Homo sapiens: one gene and its partners. The protein of the gene in region 2 purifies or fractionates together with the protein of the main gene of each other region. This does not show direct contact. Each region holds a gene or a part of one and is shown on either strand. Other genes may lie near its edges.

What was found.
Region 1: the proteins of PURG (region 2) and U2SURP purify together in Homo sapiens (co-immunoprecipitation; 2 studies listed by BioGRID and IntAct, with this or other methods). This does not show direct contact.
Region 3: the proteins of PURG (region 2) and DHX57 purify together in Homo sapiens (co-immunoprecipitation; 2 studies listed by BioGRID and IntAct, with this or other methods). This does not show direct contact.

The regions. Positions count from the first base shown.
Region 1 is NC_000003.12:142,996,239-143,004,916, reverse strand, and holds the start of U2SURP (U2 snRNP-associated SURP motif-containing protein), read right to left. Parts: upstream 3,348-8,678; 5' UTR 3,289-3,347; coding exon 3,244-3,288; intron 1-3,243.
Region 2 is NC_000008.11:31,029,696-31,038,484, forward strand, and holds PURG (purine-rich element-binding protein gamma), read right to left. Parts: upstream 3,662-8,789; 5' UTR 3,383-3,661; exon of another isoform or gene 3,094-3,382; 5' UTR 3,088-3,093; coding exon 2,044-3,087; 3' UTR 1,155-2,043; downstream 1-1,154.
Region 3 is NC_000002.12:38,865,588-38,873,524, forward strand, and holds part of DHX57 (putative ATP-dependent RNA helicase DHX57), read right to left. Parts: intron 2,825-7,937; 5' UTR 2,819-2,824; coding exon 2,595-2,818; intron 1,646-2,594; exon of another isoform or gene 1,522-1,645; intron 1-1,521. UniProt on the Homo sapiens protein: Probable ATP-binding RNA helicase.

The DNA of each region.
Region 1 (8,678 bases), on a different chromosome or scaffold from region 2:
TCTCCTCTCAAAATGAAAGCTACTACATAACATCAACACCCCTCCCCAACCAAGCAATATTTTAGACTAGTGATAAACAAACAAATGCACAGGAAAATTTTAGCTCATTTCTAGAACATTTGTTAAATGTCTACATCTGCCAGGCTCTAAAATGCAAAGCACAACAAAATTACACAGAAAATTAAAGTGCACAGGGGTCTCTTCATTAGGGACAATTATGAATAAAGGTAAGTCATTCAAGTACATACACATACATAAAGTATCATTTTAAAACTAGAAGCCAGGCACGGTGGCTCACGCCTATAATCCCCGCACTTTGGGAGGCCGAGGCGGGGGGGGGGGGTCACAAGGTCAAGAGGCCAACAGATGAAACCCCATCTCTACTAAAAATACAAAAATTGGCCAGGCGCCTGTAGTCCCAGCTACTCGGGAGGCTGAGGCAGAAGAATTGCTTGAACCCAGGAGGCAGAGGTTGCAGTGAGCTGAGATTGCACCACTGCACTCCAGCCTGGGCGACAAGGCAAGACTCCCTCTCAAAAAAAAAAAAAAAAAAAAAAAAAAAACACCCCAACTAGAAGACCTGTAGAGGTTATCTAATTTAATCTTTTTATAATTAAGAAATGTTAATAATTTTGCCATATTGTACATTTAAAATTAACATTTTCCCAATGTCTAGAAATATAATAAGCATCCCTATCCATATTAACGGGAATGTAACTACCAAAGAAAACGACGAATCATGAAACAGAAGTATCTGTTCACTCCATCTGTATTGTAAAATATAAGCCACTCATCTGTTCTTTCCAGAGGAAAGGAAATCAAACCAGATATCAAAGGCTAGAAATTCTAAATACTGTAGTATTAGCCAAAATGATCTTACAATTTCTCTAATAAATTATGTGTTAGAAATAAAAAGCAGGGAAGCAGGGCGGGGCACGGTGGCTCACGCCTGTAATCCCATCACTTTGGGAGGCTGAGGCGGGTGGATCACGAGGTCAAGAGATCGAGACCATCCTGGCCAACATGGTGAAACCCCGTCTCTACTAAAATACAAAAAATTAGCCGGGCGTACTGGCGGGCGCCTGTAGTCCCAGCTACTAGGGAGGCTGAGGCAGGAGAATCACTTGAACCCGGGAGGCGGAGGTTGCAATGAGCCGAGATTGTGCCACTGCACTCCAGCACTCCAGCCTGGGCGACAGAGCGAAACTCTTTCACAAAAAAAAAAAAAAAAAAAAAAAAGAAATAAAATAAATAAAAAGCAGCTATCTGGGCAGTCATTATGACAGCTGATGACTTAGATTCCAAATCACAGGATTAAAATTTATCCTGACATTTTGAAAGCTAAGAACTTTTGATTTCCTCTAAAAACAAAAAGAGGGGAAAGAAATTAAGATTTATTATGTACTTCATAGACATTATCTCATTTGATCCTTATATCAACCATGTAAAAAAAGAATTATATCTACATTACAAATGAGGGAATTGAGGCTCCAGAGTTTAAGCAATCTGCCTTATTATCGCAAATATAATTAATTACCAAGTCAGGATTTGAACCCAAATCTCTTGTTAACAAAATTCATAATCTTCCCACTACATTATGCAGCCTCCAAATTAGTTAAGATATTCTGATTCCTTTCACAGACATCAGTAAGAAATCTGCTAATAGCATCAAGAGATTATAATCTAAGGCAATATAAACAGAAAAGATTACTGGATAATCCAATAATTTATTTATTGAGAACAGCCATACATTCAGTCATGAGAAGCACTATTTTAGAAGGAAGCCTGAACACAGACATTGAAATGTTTTCAATGTATCCAAGACCTCAAGTAGGGAATACTTAAAATATTACTTTGAGAAGAAACAAAAATTGTGAGGCTTATGCACGACTTGTTATGAACGTAGCTAGCTTTAGTAATAGCTCCCTAACGGTATGTTCTTGTCAGGAGTCTGTTGAGAAGAGTTGGTAGAGCTCGCCCCCAAAGAGAGGGAGACGAGAAAATGTACTGAGGAGGGGGAAAAAAAACTGACACAATACCTTGTAAAGAAGCCGAAACTGGCCCCTCACCAAAGTTTCTATGTAACTAAACGATGTCTGTTAAGACCATTACTAATTATGAATTAATTATTTTGGTGTACATCGTTCACCAAATGGCATAAACAGTCGGATTAGAGAAAGCAAGTAGAAAACGAGTTATGATGTTTCTCAGAACTGTAAACGCAAGCTTCTCTCCTACCGTAAATTTAACTTTCTAATAGCCGATTTACAGTCACACACTCTTTAAGATTTAACAGTCCCTAGCACCTGAAAGTGTTACACAGCTTCTTGCATCAGCATCGGAAAGTTTAACTACCTCGTGGCAGTACCAATTACTTTTAATATATTCGAGACCAGAAACCCAAACCAAAAAACGATTAAATGTCCCGCCCAAGATGGCAACTAAGAACCCAACCGTACTAATGCTTAACTACTACCACAGCTCACTGGTTTCACAATACGTGCCCAGGGTTCCCTGTAAACACAAATGCAATTTACTAATCGTATGTAGCTTACAAGTCTACGGAGCTTCTCTTTTCACTGTTTCTTCAACATAAAGAAAGAGACCACGAGTCCTCTACCCTCAAAAGTGCTTTTTACTTCCCGTTAAGGTAAAGACCACGTGTAGACTGTACATTAACCTTGGCTATGCAGCACTGCAAAGGAGAGCTGCTCCCGCCTCTGCATTTCCCACTCCGTGTCTTTGCCCTAGTGGTCCTCCCCTCACAGCTGGCGACCCTAGAGGTTATTCATTCCTTGGAGGGAAACTGAGGGAGGCCGGAAGTGAGTGAGATCCAAAACCGAGAAAAAAGCAGCAGACATTTAAGCACCGGGAAGCGATTCCCGCCTCTCTCCCAGGCGCTGTCTGGCGGCCTCAGGGCGCAGGAAGCTGAGATACAGGAGAGCGTTTTCACTGCTTCAGACCTCAATCTGAATTCCTGATTTCACTCCAATGCCAAGCGCGGGCCGAAGCACTCACGCCTCCACCCACTGGGCACGCCAGTCTCGAGCTGAATCCCGGCTGGGACTATGGGGAGATACCAGGCCTCTCAACCTGCGCACAACGGTGCGGCGGCGCCCGGGCCTACCGTCGCGACTAGAATGCAGACCCCAATCCCAATCGCCTCTCACAGGCCAGAAGCGTCTGTGGGCCCCAAACGACAGTGGTAGATCCGCTGACTTACGAAATTTTGTCAGAAATTACCTTTGAACTGGCCTTCTGAGATCCGCCTGGCGTTTTGTCCGCCATCTTGAGCTTTGCCCCTCCTTCGGCGGCGGCAGCAGCACGGGCGAGTCGAGCACCGAAAGAGCGGATCTCAGTGAAGCCCGCCAGAGGCGCCTGCAAGGCTGAATAGTCGACTGTCGAGATAGCGACCTTAGGGGCAGCCGCTCACGTGACTTCCGGTGTCAGTAATTTCCTCAGCCGCGCTCACTCCGCTAGTTTTCCTGGGAGTCACGGTGCTTGGTCGCGTTATTGGGTCCGGGAATTCAGAGAATCAGGGCCAGCTGATACTTCACCCTCTTATCCCAACGCCAACCCTTGATAGATGCGAACCAGTCGTATTTCCTTTGTGGGAAAGGAGTCGCTTTTTAAAGACGTGCACTGGCCATCTAGGGAGGAGCTTTTACTTCAACTCAAAATAGGACTGGAGCTGACTGGTGACCTGGCGCTCGATGGACGGAAACGCTGTTCTTGCCGCTTCGGCAGCTCCCATACTGGTGGGAGAGGCAAACTTGCAGTCTGCTCATCTTAAGATGGTGAATGTTGAGATAGGGTTGCTCCCGAAAAGCCGAGAAGAGGAGCCGTTTGACCCAACTTGAGGGTGATCCGATAGACACTCTTTAGGGCGTCTGCAGAGTGGGTGCGCGTGGAGACAGTCAATAAGAGAAAATCGTAAATACAGATGGTATTCTAAATCTAGCATGCATGTAAAGTTGTGTGACATTTTAAAGATTACATTTTACACTTTAGTATTGTTTTCATTTTTAATCACATAAATGGGGGAACACCATATTAAACTTTTCTGAACTTAGTACTTTTTTAAAAAGTTCTTAATCAGGGCCTAGATTCAAAGACGGAAAGCTTGCTTGAGAAGGCCATGCCCGAATCAGGCCAGGCAAGGAAAGAAAGGACATTCCAGACAGAGGGAGTAATTGAGGTAAAAGCCTGTGGCATGAATCAGTACAGCCGATCGTGCAGGTCACCTAAAGCAGTCGTTTTATTAGACCAGGTGTGGGGAGGGACGTGGTTGGACAGGGGTGCGGGTGCAGGTTCACACAGCGCCCTGAGGTCACCATCGTGCTTAGGAGTTAGAATTCTGTTCTCAGAATGAAGATCGGCCTTTAACAAGGTTGAAATGGTCAGATTTTTATTTTAAAGTATTGCTCTGAGGACTAGGGTGGGAGTGGAGGGCGTTTGTGGACCTCTCCCTAAATCATTTATTCAAAATATTTTTGAGCCCCGTTTTGTGTGTAAAAGCCTGCCCAAAGTGTTGTAGGGCTTACAGAGACAGACAAACATGCACTGTCTTCATATGATTTAAAACTTAATGAGAAATGGAGGAGACAAGGAAACCGCAAACTGACACTATGCATAATTAAATTGATGCTGCAAGGAAGGATCAATAGCTGAGGGACCTCTGAAAGAAGTAATTAATTCTGAGAGTAGGAGTGAGGAAAAGAGACGGGGCGGGGCAGGGGGGGGGGTGGTCATAGAGAAGAAAGCATTTGAACCAGCTCTGAAGAAGTAGAATTTTGTTGAATGGCGGGGGTGGGGAGCGAGGGAAGCACTTAGAACAGGATCTGACACAAGGCTGGCTCTCAAGAAAGATTAACAGACATATATGCCAGCCACTAAGGAATCAGCAGGCCAGGCCTCCTATTCTCTGTGAGGGTATGAGGGTAGAAGAACAGACAGTAAACAAGAAATGATCTGAAAGTGACAAGTGCTACACATGAAATTAGAATGACTTGCACCCTCCAACCCAATTCAATTTACTTCTACTGCTGGATTCTGTCATACTTTTTCAGTTCTGGGCCTCTTCCCTCAACCTTGCCCTGCCCTCTCATTGAAGTCTAATCCAATTCTACTCTGGGTGAAGATGTCCCTTCCTCCAGGAAGGCTTACAGTCCTCCCTCCCCACCAATCCTAAATCAGAGACCCTTCTGTTTCCAAGGAACCTATACTTTACCACTTTGAAGAGCTCAGCACACTAGATCTTAACAGGGTTTTGTTTTGTTTTGTTTGTTTTGAGACGTCTCGCTCTGTCGCCTAGGCTGGAGTGCAGTGGCGTGATCTCGGCTCACTGCAAGCTCCGCCTCCTGGGTTCATGCCATTCTCCTGCCACAGCCTCCCGAGTAGCTGGGACTATAGGCGCCCGCCACCACGCTCGGGTAATTTTTTGTATTTTCAGTAGAGACGGGGTTTCACCATGTTAATCAGGATGGTCTCCATCTCCTGACCTCGTGATCCACCCACCTCGGCCTCCCAAAGTGCTGGGATTACAGGCGTGAGCCACCGCGCCCAGCCTAGATCTTAACTGTTTATAGGATTAGAAAGTGAAATCATCAGCTGAGATGAAGAGGAGAAGTGGGACTGGGTATGCCTTGTGGTGTTCTGACAATGCCACAGGCTGATTTTGTCACTAGAAAGTGAATATGTGTAGCTTTTCAGTCAAATCCCCAAAGTCCTACTTATTTTAAAAATAATTTTTACTAAATACTCCTGAAGAGTCAAAAACAAAAGAATGCAGACTTCTTTCCTCTCTTCTTTTTTATATTGTAAGCCCCAAAGCAAGTCAGACAAATATGATGTGACTAGAAATAATACGGGCCTTTATTAAGGGTTAAGTACGCTTTTAAAAATTCAAAATCATTGCCAGGCACAGTGGCTCAGGCTTGTACTCCTAGCACTTTGGGAGGCCAAGGCGGGCAGATCAAGGCAGGCAGATGGCTTGAACCCATGAGTTCGAGACCAGCCTGGGCAACATGGCAAAACCTTATTTCTACAAAAAAATATTTAAAAATCAGCCAGATGTGGTGGCATGCATCTGTAGTCCCAGATAGGAGGCTGAAGTGGGAGGACCACCAGAGCACTGGGAATCTTGCCATTGCACTCCAGTCTGGGCAACAGAGTGACCCTATCTCAGGAAAAAAAAAAAAAAATTGAACATCACAATTATGAGTAAGAATTCTTGATACGTGAAATTCTGGCCCTATTACGTCATGAAATTCTGGCCCTATTACTCAAATTACAAATTCAGGAAAGTGAAATAGCATGAAAATAATCCAAATGGAATTTTATGGAATCTGAATAATTAGATTAGTGCTAAGGGACTACACATAAACAGTAAGAATCATGCAATTTACTGCAACTAGTATTACCTTTTTACAATTACAGTAAAACCATGCCATTTTTCTCTTCCCGATGTGTTGATTTTCTGGTGCCCACACCTGCCATTTGTTTTTAAGGCTTCTCCCTGCAGCAGATACGTTCAAGAGAAATTACAAAGTAGTGCCATATACAATACTGAGATGTTTTGTTTGGTTCATTCAGGGAGATTTTTTCTTTGAAATTTGAGCTAGCATTTTAAAACAGAGAGATTTTACATAAAACTCAGGGTTTCTAGCCTTTCTTGAAAAATGGGGAAGTCTGGCAACACTGGGGGACAATCCAGGTGAGGTGGCCTGCAGCGACTTCTAGGGAAGGGGGCTATGAACACCAGTTTAGCCACCAACTCATCATACACGGTGGACAAATTCCCCATACCCAGCCTGCTTGTAGGCATTTCAGTTTTCTACTTCTGATGTACAGTGTAATACTTACCTGGGGTGATGATCAAAACATTACCAACCAGTTCCCCCAGGCACCAGCCAGAACTGACTTGTTAGTAAGGTACAGGAGACTCAGTGCCTAGGGCTCACAATAATTTTTAGACCTCCCCACCAAAAATGTTTTGATTTCTTTAAGGAGGAAAAAAGTGGAGTGGAGAAAGTATTTAACAATACAAACAGCTGTGGAACCTGTGCATGCTGAAAGATAGAGACCTTAAAAAATGATTGCCCCAAAGCTACAGCCTCCTGTATTGTGCCAATGGACTGCTCCTACTTGGTGGCATTTTCATTCTAGACAGTTTTTAAACAGTTTTTCCCTGCTCTCTGGGTTTCAGGATATAGGCTGGTAAAAGGAACACTCCATTTGCTTCTTTGGCATTTATTGAGTTTCTAGCTTGTGCTAGGCTCTGAAGAAAGAAGATAAAAGGAGAGACAACTAAAAATCAGACTTAATGTCTTCTGCTAAGACAGATCCTAGCTGCTTCTAGGAATAATTAGGAAACAGCCTTCACGGAGGTGTGGTCAGTGTGGAATGGAAAATTCCTTCTGCTGCACTTGACTGCCTGCCCCACACCCACCCCACAACGTAAGTGTTATGAATAAGGTTTTAGTAGCAACAGCAGCTGCTCCCCCTTTCTCACACACACAAAAATTACCTGACTCACTTATTGATTATATACAGATTCCTTTGACAATAATAATTAGCAGTGGCAGCCAGGCGCAGTGGCTCACGCCTGTAATCCTAGCACTTTGGGAGGCCAAGGCAGGTGGATTGCCTGAGCTCAGGAATTTGAGACCAGCGTGGGCAACATGGTGAAACCCCTTCTCTACTAAAATACAAAAGAAATTAGCTGGGCATGGCAGCGTGCACCTGTAGTCCCAGCTACTCAGGAGGCTGAGGCAGGAGAAATGCTTGAACCCAGGAGGCAGAGGTTGCAGTGAGCTGAGATCACACCACTGCACTCCAGCCTGGGCAACAAAGCGAGACTCCGTCTCTACAAAAAATAATAATAATAATAATAATAATAATAATTAGCAGTGGCATTTTTTTAAAAATGATGTCAAAAAGTATATAGCCCAAGAATACACTGGTGCCATGTTGAAAATAATAGAAATTGCCATTTTAACTATGATCCTAGTGAGAAGGAAACCTTTACTGTGTAGGAATTATTTTATCAACAAGGTTAATAAAATCTAGGAGAGTCCAGATGGCGTACTGTGGAAATGGAAATGAGCGTTCCTGAGTGTGTGTGTGTGTGTGTGTGTGTGTGAGTGTGATAAAGGAGGACTCAAGGTTCCTGTGGCAGGTCATGAGAACCAGCACACGGCAAATCTGGGGAGCTCTCTCTTGCCATGGCCAGGCAACCCAAAGGTGGGCTTGACTTGGACCACCAAAGATAAGGCCTCACTTAACTTGTGACCTGGCTTTGGCCAGTGCGAAGCGTACATATCCCCATATTTACTGAAACTCACGAGACAAGACCAGGTAATATTACAGGCTGGGTGGAGAATGAAGTTATGAAAAGAAAATGAAAGAAGACTTTCCCTCATCAATTTCATCTGTTAATAACAAAAGTTGTTAGTAACAGTGGTCTTAAAACACATAAGGCTTTATTTTGACATTGCTATAGTGGTAAGATTCTATCAAAACAACATGGCATACCTTTCTTCTTTTTCAAGTTTTGTTCCATTTCCTTCACATTAACTTTGCATTATTTCCTGTTACTTTAATTGTTAGGTATTTTGTCTTTTCTGTTGTTACTGTGATTATAGTAAGTTTTTGTATTTATGTATGTCCTAAATAAG
Region 2 (8,789 bases):
CAAAATCTGACAGGTTGATTATTATTAATAGGCACTATGATGGGCAGCAATAACAATCAGTAGTACAGTAATTCAAGTGCACATCATTCCTTCATAGACCAAAAACTACTTTTTTAGCAAGCCTACATAGTTATTTTACAGTTAGGACTGTTTAAAAATCCTTGCTACTTTTAGAGTCTCAACACCCACCATGTGCTATTAGCTCTAGTACTAACATTATCTCCTAACCTTCAGTTGTTCCATAGTGATCCAGATGGTCCACAATTATAATGAACTAATGAGATTCCTTCACGCTACTAGAGGAAATGTGAAATACAATCTGCAAACCAACACTAGTATATATGTCGGGGTTACTGATTGCTTGTTCTTAAGTAACATAAACCAATGAAATTAATTTTTTTAATTCATACCATCAAGTTTTCTTAGTGACCTCACGTAAAGGTATTGGGGGACAAAACTCTGGAAGAAAAAAATCGCTGATATAATTTTAAATTACTTTTAGCATATAAAAGAAGAGCTACATTCTGATTTGAATCCATGCAGCCAGCTCTCATCAATGAGAGTGATATTTGGGGGTTGAAATCAGTGTTCTGGCTCTTAAATATGATTAGATGGACTTATTGTGTGGGAGGTGAATAAAGCCAAGATAAAAGACAATAATTTCATTCAGAAGAAAATATAGCTGAATAGATGTAATTTCAGTCAATTAATACAGGATGGGTTGGTACACATATAACACTATATCCACTTGTTTAAAAAATTGCTTAGGTGTTGAAAAATTGCTGTGGCACTTCCTGGAAAGTAATTTTTAATACAGGTAAATGGGTGAGTCTTGTGTAAAGTCAGAAAGAGCACCTTGGAAAATGCCTGAATTTTCCTTTCAAATATATTTATAACCAATCTTCAAATAATATTTTTCTCAGACTGGAAATTTGTATTCTAAATTATTTTTAGAAAAAAAAAATCCCCACCCCCTCCAGAATTAAAACACCTGTAAAATTCAGGATTATATTGGAAGTGTTGACATGGTTTTAAGGGTAGCAATTGCAAAAGTGCTACTAAAATATATTATTACAGGTATATTTTTATATCAGTTAATTGGTACACCAACCCTTCTGAAAGAGTGTTAAAGAAGAAGCATAAAGTATAACACCTTGAGTCCATGATATATTTTGGGGAAGAAACCTCTTGCAATCTTTAAATTAGCATGAAAAGCTACACCACCAAGATTTCCATAGCAAAGCCATTGGATGAAGCCTCCCACTCAATGTGACATAAAAGTAATTCCTGAAACTTTGGAAAGTCAATAAAAATATATGGAACATTAAGTAGAGGTAAAGAAGGGATTGTAACTAAACTTAGAATAACGAATTAAAACTCTCCCATGGCTTTGATATGGCAACTATAAAATGTAGGGTTACCACAAAGTTTGAAATTATAGAATACTATAGTATTCTTAAGAAATATTATGACATTATATTTTTAAGGTTTAATTAGGTAATAAGATTTGATCCTTTGATGGTATATTCAGTTATTCAACGGACAATATACGTCTACTTGTACTTTTATAAGTAAATATTTATATATACCGGAGGTCAATTTCTGTTTCTGTGGTAACTGCCCTACAGGTAAGCTTAGCAGCTTTTAATGAAGTAGAATTGAAATACTTTTGGGGGAAAGTCACACTTCTATTTAAGTATATGTATCTTTTTTCGGGATTATGTCATAGTGCAATGTAAATCTTAGTTATGGTATTTAGAATGTCAGAATGTCACATTTTGTGCTGATTTGCATACTTCAATAGTCTGGAGCAGTTGAAGCAGCTAAACTATTTAGCTCTGGGAAGGTTGGAATTCCCGTAAGAATTATAGTGATCTATGTGTAACATAACATGAGAATCAGACTTCCTGAAGTATCAACTACTAGAGGTATTACTAATAACAACGGGCCAAAAAAGAGGAAAAACTTCTTCAAAGGATAATGGATCAGTACTTTTAGCCAATTTGTGATTTTAAATTTTGCCTGATGGAGTTCAATTTCACTCTAGTCGAGGCATTCTTGTTCTTCACCACTGGCCTTTCTGCCATCCATTCTCTTTTCTTTATGGCTGTTGCAAATTTTCCTCATCTCTTCTTCATACTTGATAAAATTCTCCCCAAACCTTGTCCAAGCTTTGAATGGAACAGTAATAGTATTACGGTAAGGTGGTCTCACCTCACTTACCTTCAGGAAAATTCCATATTTATTAGAGCCCACATCAAAGTAGAACCTTTTATTGTCCACTCTGAAAGAAGTCCCCTCTGGGAGTTCAAGCGGGTCATCGTCTCCACCTCTTCGTTCTTCTATGTCTCCTTCGCCATAGTCTTCAATCAGCTGAACCAAGGCATCACGAAACTCAATCATTCCTTGTGCTGGGAGGACAATAGTCTGTTCTTGGCCCAAACTGTGGCCAAAATAACCTATCATGCCAGTCCCCCGCATCATGGTTTGTCTAATCCGTAGGAAGCGACCCCGCTGATTTTCCTTTAGGTCTAGGTAATATTTCCTATTGTCCCTCTCGATATAGTCTGTTTTCAGGACACTGTGAGGATGCTCTTCGGACCCCACCGAGACTGGTGGGGAGGGTGCCGAGTGCTTCTGCCTCCTTCTGGAGCCTTGCTCTTTGCTGTGGCCATGCTCTTGCCGGTGGCCTTTCAGGCCCAGGTGGGCATAGTGCTCGATGAAGTCCCCTAGACAGTCCTTCAGCTCCGCTGCCACAGACAGGGAGAGGGTCAGTTTACTCTTTCTGATGTTGTCCTGCCGGCCTCTCCCTATCCAGACTTCGGCTATCTTTAGGAAGCGGCCCCGGGAGCTTTGCTTCACGTCTAGGTAAAACCTCTTTTTCTGGATGTCCACTCGTTTGGAGGCCAGCTCCTGGATTTCGGCTGCGCCCCCGGCCTGATTAGGGGTGGCTGAGGCCGCGTAGTGGGGGTAGTGGGAGTGCTGGGCCTGGGGATAGAGTCTACTCTTGCTTAGGCCAGAGCCCCCTACATTCTTGCCTCCGCGGCCGCGGCCGCCGCCGCCTCCCCTTCGCCTGGCTCTTTCCATCTTCAGCTGCAAGTAACAAACAGACACACGGGATGGGGTGGGGGAGGGGTGTTGAGAACAATCGCAGACGCCCCTCGGCCTGACCGCCCCGCCGCCGCCCGCGACCCCCACGCCGGGCCCGGCTCCCCCGGCGCCGCAGCGCGGGGCTCCAGCCACTGCCGGCCGGTTGGCGGCCGCCGCTCCGGCTCTGCCCGCGCTCCCCGCATCCCTCCGCCGCCCCCGGGGCCGCTCCCGCACGCCGCCGCCGCCCGTCCCGCGCTCCGCGGCCCCAGGTCTCCAGCCGGCGGGCACTCACATCATCTCTGCCATCACCGCCGCCGCCGATGCCCTTCACGACCACCGCCGCCGCCACCGCCAGCTCTCGGCCCCTCTGCTGCAGCCGCCGCAGCCGCCGCCCCCCGCCTCCTCCCCCGCCGCCGCCGCTCGCACTGCCCCCCGCCGGAGCAGCCGGGCAGGGGCATCGCCCGCGGCGCCCACCGCAGCCGCCCCTCCTGCGGCCGCTGCGGGGGCCGCCGCCTGACTTCGGACACCGGCCCCGCACCCGCCAGGAGGGGAGGGAAGGGGAGGCGGGGAGAGCGACGGCGGGGGGCGGGCGGTGGACCCCGCCTCCCCCGGCACAGCCTGCTGAGGGGAAGAGGGGGTCTCCGCTCTTCCTCAGTGCACTCTCTGACTGAAGCCCGGCGCGTGGGGTGCAGCGGGAGTGCGAGGGGACTGGACAGGTGGGAAGATGGGAATGAGGACCGGGCGGCGGGAATGTTCTCACTTCTCCGGATTCCACCGGGATGCAGGACTCTAGCTGCCCAGCCGCACCTGCGAAGAGACTACACTTCCCGAGGTGCTCAGCGGCAGCGAGGGCCTCCACGCATGCGCACCGCGGCGCGCTGGGCGGGGCTGGATGGGCTGTGGTGGGAGGGTTGCAGCGCCGCGAGAAAGGCGAGCCGGGCCGGGGGCGGGGAAAGGGGTGGGGCAGGAACGGGGGCGGGGACGGCGCTGGAGGGGCGGGTCGGGTAGGTCTCCCGGAGCTGATGTGTACTGTGTGCGCCGGGGAGGCGCCGGCTTGTACTCGGCAGCGCGGGAATAAAGTTTGCTGATTTGGTGTCTAGCCTGGATGCCTGGGTTGCAGGCCCTGCTTGTGGTGGCGCTCCACAGTCATCCGGCTGAAGAAGACCTGTTGGACTGGATCTTCTCGGGGTAAAGTGTCTTCCTATTCCCGTTTTCCCAGCTCCGTGCCCCGGGGTATCTATAGTGCTAGGCTTCTGAGACACGTGGAGGCGCTTAGGCCCGCGGAGCAGGCCCCTGGGCTGTGTTTGGGAGATTCTGGAAAAACAGACTTTCTCCCTTTTCCTTTCCCCTCTGGAGCAGCTGGGAAAGGCGTCTCTCGGAGCTTCCGCCATTCAGAAAGTGTTTCCCCGCCCCTGACGGCCCCAGCTTGATGTTTACCTTGCGCGCTTAGTTAGGATTGCTCTTTCTAGTACGGCCTTTATTATGGCAGAAATTGAGCCACTACAGGTCTGCACAGCAAAGTCGAGGGAAATAACCTGCTGTCTATGATTTAGCAAGTGATGATGGATATTTTTGAGTTCAAATCACTCAGTCTTTAATGGATTTTCTTTTCTTTTTTTCCTAGTTGAATCTCAGTTGTTCTCAGGCTAGGTTTGATATGAAAAATACTACTCCCTATTGAAGAGGGTAATATAATTCTTAGGATGCTAATACAGGAGTCTGTAAGTCGGAGTACTTCAGGCTTTTTATGGTTCGGTACATTTCTTTTTAGGGGTGGGATATTGGGATAAGTAGGACAGTTCAGATCTTGATGTCATTGAATAGTGGTGTCTACCTAAAAGGAAGAGGCTGGGGCACAAAATTATAATTTAAAGTGTTTACTTCAGCCAAAATGAGGACAGCTGCCCAGGACTCATTTCCCAGTTGCCTTGGGGAGTGCTCCTTCAGCCTTGGTTACAAGCAGGTTTTTAAAGGCGAAGGGGAAGAGTGGGCTGAGACAAAGTTGGTCAGGAATTGTTATTGGTTTACAGAGATACCATTGCTTAGTGATTGGCTGTACACTGTAACTCATAGGGTATGAGTTATCGTGTCCAGCATATGGCATTTTATGGCTTCTTGGTTCCAGTCTAGAGCCCATATAGCAGGTGGGCTTTAAGAGATAATTATCCAGCTCAGACCGGGAGTGAGACGGGACTGTTTTTTCATTCTAATGCCTCTCTGGGCCTGATAATTTAAAGGGGCTTGCATTCTTCAGCTAAAATTTTATTTTCTTTTATTTTTTTTCCCCCACAGTGGTCTCCCTTTATTAATCCAACAAATGTTTATTAAGGACTGCTCTAGGCACTAGAGATACCAACAATGAACAAAACAGACAAACATCTCTCTCCTTTTGGAGCTTACATTTTAGTGGAAAGAGACAGGCAAAAAGTAAAATTATAGGATGACAGAAGGTGAAAATAGAGATTAAAAAGGAAAGGGGGATGAAGAGTGTGTGTGTGTGTTGTGGGTGGGGGGCTGTAGGGAGCTGCAGTTTTACAATAAGTGGTCAGGGACGTCCTCGCTGAGAAGGGAATTTTTGAGTCCAGAGCTCAAGGAAGTGAGAGAACTTACCTTGACGTTCTCTGGAGGAGAAGAAAGTACAAAGGCCCTGGGGGAACCTGCCTCTTTATGTTCAGAGAGCAACTTAAGAGGCCTAGTGAGCTGGAGCAGAGCGGAGAGGAGGTCAGAGGTCAGGCCAGAAAGGGAAAGGGGCCAGAATGTGTAGGACTTTATGGGCTATATTGAAAATTGGGGCTTTCATTCTGAGGGAGATGGGAAGCTGTTGGAGAGTTGTTAGGGAAACGTGATCTGAATTATGTTTCTAAAAAATTGGAGTAAGATATCATAAAATTTGCCATCTTAGTCTTTTTTGTATCTGGCCAATTCCACTCAGAATTCTTTTTTAAACAGCTTTATTGAGATATAATTAATATATCATATGATTCACTCATTTAAAGTGTGCAATACAATGGTTTTTAGTTTGTCTTCAGAGTTGTACAACCTTTATCACAATTACCTTTAGGACTTTTTCATTACCCAAAAGAGAATCTCCATAACCATTAGTACTCAATCCCACCCGCTTTCCTAGCAATCACTTACCTATTTTTTTGTCTCTATATAGCTCTCAAACCCTATGATATTCCTTCTATCTAACTGTATTTTTGTACTCATTAACAGCCTCTCTTCATTCCCACCACCCATCCATCCCAGCCTCTGGTAATCACCATTCTACTTACTACCTCAATGACATCAAATTTTTTAGCTCCCACATATAAGTGAGAACATGCGATATTTGTCTTTCCCTGCCTGGTTTATTTCACTTAACAGAATGTCTTCCAGTTCCATTCATGTTGCTGCAAATGACAGGATTTCATTCTTTATTATGGCTTAATACTATTCCATTGTATATGTATATCACATTTTCTTTATCCACTCATCTGTTGATGGACAGTTAGCTTGATTCCATATTCTGGCTATTGTTGAATAGTGCTGCAGGAAACATGGAAGTGCAGATAGCTCTTTGACATACTGATTTCATTTCCCTTGAATATATACCCTGTAGTGGATTTGCTGGACCCGCTTGTAGTTCTACATTTAATATTTTGAGTTATTTCCATAATGTTAGTAATAATTTACATTCCCACCAACAGCGAGGAAGGAGTTCCCTTTTCTCCACATCCTCGCCAACACTTATCTTTTGTCTTTTTGGTAATAGCCATTCTAACAGGTGTGAGGTGATATCTCATTGTGATTTTGATTTACATTTCCCTGATGGTTATTGATGAGCAATGTTTCATATACTTGTTGGTTATTTGTATATCTCCTTTTGAGAAATGTCTATTCAGGTCTTTTGCTCATTTTTTAAATATGGTTTTTTAATTTTTTTATTTTTTTGCTATTGAGTTGTTTGACATCCTTAAACATTTTGGAAATTAACCTCTTATTAGATGTATAGTTTGCAAATATTTTATCCGATTCTGTAGATTCTGTCTTCAGTCTGTTGAATTTGCTGTGCAGAGAAGCATTTTATTTTGATGTAATCCCTTTGTCTATTTTTGCTTTTGTTACCTTTGCTTTTGAAGTCATATCCAAAAAATCATTGCCCAGATCAGCAGTCCCCAACCTTTTTGGTACCAAGGACTGGTTTCATCGAAGACAATTTTTCCATCCACAGGAGGGAGGGGATGGTTTCAGGATATTTCAAGCGCATTACATTTATTGTGCACTTTGTTTCTATTATTATTACATTGTAATATATAGTGAAATAATTATACAATTCACCATAATGTAGAATCACTGGGAGCCCTGAGCTTGTTTTCCTGAAACTTGAGGGTCCTATCTGGGAGTGATGGGAGACAGTGACAGTTCATAAGGCATTAGGTTCTTCTAAGGAGCATACAACCTAGATCCCTTGCATGCGCAATTCACAGTAGGTTTTGCGCTGCTATGAGAATCTAATGCCACCGTTGATGTGTCAGGAGGTGGAGCTCAGGTGGTAACGTGAGGAATGGGGAGCAGCTGTAAAGAAAAATGAAGCTTCGCTTGCTTGCCTGCTGCTCACCTACTGCTTTGTGGCCTGGTTCCTAACAGGCCATGGACTGGTACTAATCTGTGGCCCTGGGGTTGGGAACCTCTAGCCCTGACCAATGTTAGGGAGCTTTTTTCCTGTGTTTTCTTCAAGTGGTTTCATGGTTTGGGGTCTTACATTTAAGTCTTTAGTCCATTTTGAGTTGATGCTGTATGTGGTGAGAGATAATTGACTACTTTCATTCTTTTGCATATGGTTATCAGTTTTCCCAACACCGTTTATTGAAGAGCCTGACCTTTCCCCATTGTGGGTTCTTGGCTCTTTTGTCAAAAATCAGTTGGCTATAAATATGTGGTTTTATTTCTTGGGTCTCTGTTCTGTTCTATTATCTGTGTGTCTCTTTATGCCAGTACCGTGCTGTTTTAATTACTAGAGTTTAGTATATTTTGAAGTCAGGTAGTGTGATGCCCCTAGCTTTGTTCTTTTAGCTCAACATTGCTTTGGCTATTCAGAGTCTTTTGTGAGGATAATGTTTTCAAGGTTCACCCATGTTGTGGCATGTATCAGAACTCGATTTCTTTTTATGGCTGAATAATATTCCATTTGTTTATATTATATATATGCCATATTTATTTATTCATATGTTGATGGACACTTAGGTTGTTTCCACCTTTTGGCTATTGTGAATAATGCTGTTATTAACATTGGTGTACAAGAATCTGTTTGAGTTCCTATTTTCAATTCTTTTGGGAATATACCTACGTGTGGACTTACTAGATCACATGGTAAGCTTTTAGTTTAGCTTTTTAAGGAACTGCTAAAACTGTTTTTCCATGGGAGCAGTGTACAAGTGTTCCAGTTCTCCATATGCTCACCAAAACTTAATTTCCTTTTTTAAAAATTATAGCTATCCTAGTAGGTGGTGGGAAGTGGTATCTTACTGTGGTTTTATTTTGTATTTCTTTAATGACTAATGATGTTGAGCATCTTTTAATGTGCTTATTGGCCATTATATGTCTTCTTTGGGAACTGTCTATTAAGTCCTTTGCCCATTTTTTAATTGAGTTTTTTTTTCTGTTGAATTGTGGGAGATCTTTATATATTCTGAATATTAAACCCTTATTGGGTGTAT
Region 3 (7,937 bases), on a different chromosome or scaffold from region 2:
CAATGTGTAGTGATCAAATCAGGGTAATTAGGATATCTAACACCTCACACATTTATCATTTCTTTGTGTTGGGAACATTCCAAATTCTCTTAGCTTTAAAACCTAGAGTGTCCCAGGGCTCAAACATCAGATACCTTCTCTATTCGATTTTATCCAGACTCAGAACTTTAGCATTTATCTATAGAAGACTCACACATTTACATCTCCAGCCTAGATCTTTTTCTTGAACCTCAGATTTATATATTAAATTATCTATTTTATATCTACACTTGGAGAACATCTCCTAACTGGTCTCCTTGCTTTCAACTCATGCCCCTTTATAGTTTATTCTCTACAAAGCACACCCAGTCAATGCTATTGAGTATAGATTCATAGACTGTACACTGCACAAAGGTTCCTGGCTGGGAGGGAAGAAGAGGGAGGAAGGGACAGCAAAATCCGGTCCATGTTCTGCTGGCTAAGCCATGATCCTGGTGTGGGGCTATAACTGTCCAAAGGAAGGAGCACCATTTTCTAATTCACATAAAGGCATACACTGAATAGAAACAACTCTGGCCAGACTGACTGATAATATCACACACCCTTGCCTCAAACCCTCCAAAGGCCTTCTGTCTTACTTCATGTAAAAGCCAAAGTCCTAATAATGGCCCATGAAGTCCTATACAGTCTGGTCTTTCTGATCTAATTGCCTACCACTTGCCTTCTTGCCCACTCATTCTAGCCACATGGTTCTTTGCTATTTCCTAAACCTTCCAAGCACATTCTTGCCTTAAGAAATTGCTCTTCCCTCTGCCTTGAATGCTGTACTCAGAACTTCACAGCTTATTCCTTTACTTACTTCTTGCCTCTCTTCACGTGATACCTTATTAGGGGGGCTTTCTACATAAATTAACAATTCTATTTTGGTATTTTATATCCCTGTTACACTCCTTTATTTCTCTCCATAGCATGCGGCACCTGGTAATGTTATACATTTGTTTATGGTTTTTCTATCTCAAATCCCATTCTATCTAGATAAGGACAATATTTTACTCCCTGCTGCAATTCCAAGTCCCTAAAACAGTGCCTGGTGCATGGTAGGCATTCAGTAAATACTTACCAAATGAATGAACATCTACGGACTCCAAGAACCTATAATGTCCATGTTTTGAAAAACTATGGAGCTGCAGCTAACTCAGAAGTTAGGTTCTTGGCTAGGCACAGTGGCTCACGCCTGTAATTCCAACACTATGGGAGGCCAAGGCAGGAGAATCGCTTGAGCCCAGGAGTTCAAGACCAGCCTGGGCAACATAGAGAGACTATGCTGCTTGCTATTTATAAAGTCTATAGTAGTGTACAGTAATATCCCTAGGCCTTCACATTCACTCACCACTTCCTCACTGACTCACCCAGAGCAAAATCCAGTCCTGCAACTTCCATTCACGGTAAGTGCCCTACATAGGTATCATTTTTAATCTCTTATACTCTATTTTTACTATACCTTTTCTACAACTAGACATGTTTAGATACACAAATACTTACCATTGTGTTATAATTGCTTAGAGTATTCAGTACAGCAACATGCTGTATAGATTTGTAGTCTAGGAGCAATTGGCTACATCATACAGCCTAGGTGTGTTGTAGGTTGTACCATCTGGGGTTGTGTAAGTACATTCTATGATGTTTGCACAACAATGAAATTGCCTAACAATGCATTTTTCAGAACACATCTCTGTCACTAAGTGATGCCTAATTGTAGTTATACTGTATAACATGCAATAGCAAAACATTTACTTTTATTAAATACTCATTAGAATTACTAGAATTCCCATAATTTATTCATTAGTTAAAAGTTGAACAGGAGAGAAACCTAGATAAGGCATCTGTTACTGGTCACCACATGTAACACCATCAGATGATGGCTGATTTGGCTGGAAAATACACAGCTCATCAACTAGAAAGACACAGTACAGTCATGTTGCACTTTAGGCTGTTCAATGTTTGTTTTTTGAGATGGAGTCTCACTCTGTCACCCAGGCTGGAGTGCAGTGGTGTGATCTCAGCTCACTGCAACTTCTGCCTCCTGGGTTCAAGCAATTCTCCTGCCTCAGCCTCCCTAGTACCTGGGATTACAGGTGACTGCCACCATGCCTGGCTAATTTTTGTATTTTAGTAGAGACAGGATTTCACCCTATTGGCCAGGCTGGTCTCGAACTCCTGACCTCAAGCGATCCACACACCTGGGCCTCCCAAAGTGATGGGATTACAGGTGTGAGCCACCGTACCTGTCCATGTTCAATGTTAACATCATCATTTTAACATCAGTCTATGATGCATAAGGAATACTTAAAATAATTTTCATCACACTATTTCTGTATTTACTTTCCTAGTAACACTGGGTATAATAGCAGTATTACACTCAATTCACAGTGTCATGCAACCTACATACACACAAAAGCTGTTATTTCCCATCATGTCTTCAGAAAAGGGTTACAAAGAGGAAGACAATTTGACCAGAATTACTCGACTTTTTTTCCATTCTCAGCCATCTGTTGTCCCATACATTAGGGGTTGATACCATTTCCATATTTAAACATTCAAAGAGTTATAATGACCTGGAAGGGCGCCTTGATTCACTGAAGATACAAAAGTCATCTCCATCATCCCATATTCTACTGGAGGCCTTTCTGTTGCCGCCACCTCCACCACCACCACCACCGCCACCGCCACCACTCCCATGAGATTTACTGGCGTGACTCCTGCCTCCTCTTCCTCCTCTAGAAGACCCTTTTCCACCTCCTTTGCCTGGCTTGCCTTTTCTTCTTACTGAAGAACTCATTTTCACCTGCAAGAGAAAAAAATTAATGTAGACATCATAAAACCAGACATGTATGATAATCCTTTGTTTGCCAAACTTATGAATATAGGCTACTTTAAAGAAACAAAGGAAAATGCATATGTAAAAAGAGCTGGTCTTGGGGCAGGATTCTGAATCTGTTCCAGTGAAAAAATTTTAAAACTACAAAATAAAAAGAGCCAGCCAGTTTAGGGATAGTATGGATAAATCTTCACAAAAGATTTATAAGCACTTCTACCTCAGGACTAATATTTAGTGAATGTCTCTGATACAGATTTCTAAACTAAAGATGTACATCATAAACACATGGAGAAGTGTCAAAATACACATGTCTAGGCTTTAATCCTAGATTCTCATTTGGTTAGGTCTAATTTAGAGTTTTATTTATTTATTTATTTATTTATTTAGAGATGGAGTCTTGCTCTGTCGCCCAGGCCGGATGATCTCAGCTCACTGCAACCTCTGCCTCCTGGGTTCAAGCAATTCTCCTACCTCAGCCTCTGGAGTAGCTGGGACTACAGGCGCCTGCCACCACGCCCAGCTAATATTTGTATTTTTAGTAGAGATGGGATTTCACCATGTTGGCCAGGCTGGTCTCGAACTCATGACCTCAAGTGATCTGCGCACCTCAGCATCCCAAAGTGCTTGGATTACAGGTGTGAGCCACTGCACCCAGCCTAGCATAGGATTTTAAAAATCCAGTTGAGAAGTTTTCATGTATTTAATATATGTTTTGACAAAATTTAAATTTATATATGCTCTATCAGGAACACAGCTTGGGCTCAGAGATTCTGCCAAGGGCAAAAGGGAAGTAGGCCGTAAGACAGATAGCTCCTAATCTTTTTCCAAAGGACTGACTCCATTTACAATGGAGTGTGGAGAAGTTCAAACCTAAAGGTGCTTTCAAGAATAGTGAGGTTGTGGGGAAAGGGAGATTACAGGATTAAATGAAGATGTAGTTTAGACTGTTGGCCAACTAGTTTGCAGGAAGCAAACCAAGGAATAAGATCACTAGGAAGTTCCTTTTTGGGATTAGAATGAGTATTAAACTGGGATCTCAGAAACTATTGCTTCAAAGAAGCCATACTTTGGTTGGATTAGTTTGTAAAGGAATTTACTCTCCAGAGCATTGTTGAAAACAATTCAGCAATCAACCATGGGCATACCTAAAGCTGTACCTCCCAGAGGAGCAACAACAGAGGCTTAAAATCGTAGGAGGGAAATAGACTTCACTAAAATATTCTAGCCAGTCACTAAAAATTAAACCAGCAAATAACAATAAGAAGCCCCTGAAAGGGGAGAATCAGTACCCAGAGTTGTTACAGTATGTTATCCAAAATGTTCAGTTAACAACAAAAAAGTCACAAGGCATGCAAAGAAACACTTAAGTATAACCCATACACTGGAGAGAAAAAGCACAAACTGCCTATGAGTGAGAACAGATGTCAGATTTAACAGAAAAGGAGTTCAAAATAGTCATTATAAGTATGTTCACAGAAATAAAGGAATGCACAATTAAAGCAGTAAAGGAAGGTATGATGACAATGTCATATCAAATTGAGAACATCAATAAAGAGATAAAAAATTATATATATAAAAAGAACCAAATGGGAATTCTGGAGTTGAAAAGTATACTAATTGAAATTAAAAATTCACTAGAGAAGCTCAACCATAAACATGAACTAGCAAGAGAAAGAACTGATGAACTTGAAGACAGACTGACATTGATTATGCAAGCTGAAAACAGAGAGAACGATAAATGAAGAAAAGTGAACAGAGCCTTGGAAAAATGTGGGACACCATCAAGGGTACCATATACATATAATGAGAATACCAGAAGGAAAGGAAAGAAAGAAAAGAGCAGAAAAAATATTCAAAGAAATAATGGTAGAAAACTTCTCTGATTCATTAAAAATCAATAACCTCTACATGCAGGAAGCTCAATGGCCTCCAACTATTAGAAAATAAACACAGAGATGCACAAAATAGACATGTTGCAATAAAAATGTTGAAGGTCAAAAGACAAAGAGAAAATCATGAAAGGAGTAAGAGAAAAACAACTTATCACTTACAGGGGGGAACCCCAATAAAATTAATGACTGATTTCTTCACAGAAACAATGGAGGGCAGAAGGTAATGACATATATATTTAAAATACTCAAAGAAAAAAATAGGGCTGGGCGTGGTGGCTCATGCCTGTAATTCCAGCACTATGGGAGGCCAAGGCGGGCAGATCACGAGGTCAGGAGATCGAGACCATCTTGGCTAACACAGTGAAACCCTGTCTCTACTAAAAATACAAAAAATTAGCTGGGTGTGGTGGCACACACCTGTAGTCCCAGCTGCTTCGGAGGCTGAGGCAGGAGAATCACTTGAACATGGGAGACAGAAGATGCAGTGAGCCGAGATTGCGCCACTGCACTCCAGCCTGGGTGACAGAGTGAGACTCCATCTCAAAAAAACAAAAAACAAAAAACAAAAAAAAAACAACAAAAAATAGTTAACCAAAAATCCAGAAAAGCTATCTTTCAAAAATGAAGGTAAAATGAAAACTTTCTCAGACAAACAAAACTGAGAGAATTTGTTGTCAATAGACCCGCCTCACAAGAAATACTAACAGTTCTTCAAGTTGAGGCAAGTATCCCTGGATGGTAATTTAAATCTACATGAAAAAACAAAGAGTACTAGTAAAGGTAATTGAGTAATTATTTTTAAAAATCCACATTTATATTGGACATTTATTTATTTGAAAACCAGTACAAAAGTATTGTCTCTTCTTTTCTCTGAAATGATTTAAAAAGCAGTTATATAAAATAATATGTATATGATATAATGTTGGGCATGTCACCTACAAGAAGGTAATATGTATGTAATATATTTGCCAATAACAGCACAAAGAAGATTGGTGGGAGCGTAATTGTGCTGTGCTGAGAAAATGACTACAGACAGTAAAGTAATACTTGTAACAAGTATAGTTGGGTATATAACATTAATAGATATAATATGTATAACAATACTATAAAAAGGAGGAAAGGAATAGAGCTATATAAAAGTAATACTTCTATGTATCTGTCTTAGTCTGTTTTCTGCTATAACAGAATGCCACAGACTAGGTAATTTATAAACAACAGAAGTTTATTTGTCTCATGGTAATGGAGGCTGGGAAGTCCAAGAGCATGATGCTGGCATCTGCGTAGTGTCATCTCATGGTGGAAGATGGAAGGCAGAAGTGGGCACGATACAGAGAGAGGTACCAGCTGCCAGACTTATTTTATAATAACTCATTCTTTTTTTTTTTTTTTTGAGACAGTCTCACTCTGTTGCCCCAGCTGGAGTGCAGTAGCGTGGTCTCAGCTTACTGCAAGGTCTGCCTCCCTGGTTCATGCCATTCTTCCACCTCAGCCTCTGGAGTAGCCGGGACTACAGGTGACCGCCGCCGGCTAAGTTTTTGTTTTTTTGTATTTTTAGTAGAGACAGGGTTTCACCATGTTAGCCAGGATGGTCTCGATCTCTTGACCTTGTGATCCGCCTGCCTCGGCCTCCCAAAGTGCTGGGATTACAGGCGTGAGCCACCGCGCCCGGCCTAATAACTCATTCTTGCTATAACTAACCCACTCCCATGCTAGTGACATTAAACCATTAATAAGGGCTCTGCCCTCATGATCGAATTACCTGTTATTAGGCCCCATCTCCTAACACTGTTGCATTGGAAATTAAATGTCTAATACATGAACTTTGGGGGTAAACATTCAAACCATAGCAATATTGCTGGAATTAAGCTAATATAAATCTGAAGTTGTTCATAAACCCCAAAGCAATCACAAAAATACTACATTAGAAAATATTCACTTAATGACTAAATGCAAATGAAAGCATAAAGTAAGAACAGAAGAAAAAATAGACATTGAGAAATACAGACATCCAAAAGTAGAATAGAGTTAGATGTAATTCTCAGTATATAGACAATAAAAATAAATGTGAGAGAATAAAGCAGTCCAATCAAAAGACAGAGATTGTCAGACTTGATTAACAAACAGGATCCAAATATATTCTGTCTGCAGGAGAGGCACTTTAAATTCAAAGACACAATAAATGAAAAGTAAAAGGATGGAAAAAGATGATCTTGCAAACAGCAACTACAAGAAAGGTGGAGTGGCTATGTTAATAGCTTACAAAACAGACTTTAAAGCAAAAAATATTACTAGAGATAGGGATATTTCTTAATGATAAAAGGGTTAATCTGCCAGGAAATGATAACAATTAAAAACACATATGTACCTAATAATAAGGCACCAAAATACACAAAGCAACAACTGACAGAAATGAAGGGAGAATTAGACAATTCAATAATAATAGTAGGAGACTACAGTACCTCACTTTTAATGGTAGAACAACTAGACAGAGGATCAACAAGGAAATAAAAGACTTGAACAACACTCTAACCAACTAGACCTAATAGGTGTCTATAGAACACTCCACCCAACAACGAACTATACATACTTCTGAAGTACACATGAAACATTTTCCAGGATATAGACCATACTAGGTGATAAAAGAAACCTCAATACATTTTTTTTTTTTTAAGACAGAGTCTTGCTCTGTCGCCCAGGCTGGAGTGCAGTGGCACAATCTTGGCTCACAGCAACCTCCGCCTCCCAGGTTCAAGCGATTCTCCTGCCTCAGCCTCCCGAGTAGCTGGGACTACAGGCACCCGCCACCATGCTCCCTGACTAATTTTTGTATTTTTAGTAGAGATGGTGTTTCACCATGTTGGTCAGGCTGGTCTCGAATTCCTGACCTCAGGTGATCTGTCCACCTTGGCCTCCCAAAGTGCAGGGATTACAGGCGTGAGCCACTGTGCCCAGCCATAAACCTCAATAAATGTAAAAAGAAAGAAATAATATGAACTATGTTCTCCAACCAAAATGGAATTAGAAATCAAAAGCTAGAAAAAATTTGGGAAACTCACAAATATGTGTATATTAAACTAGGTCTTCCTAGGTATTCCTTTCTTCAAAATTGCTGATGATTATACATATGTATTCAGAGTTTATCTTAAGTTTGTCTCTCCTTTCTACTCCCAGAAAGCTCTTTGAAAACA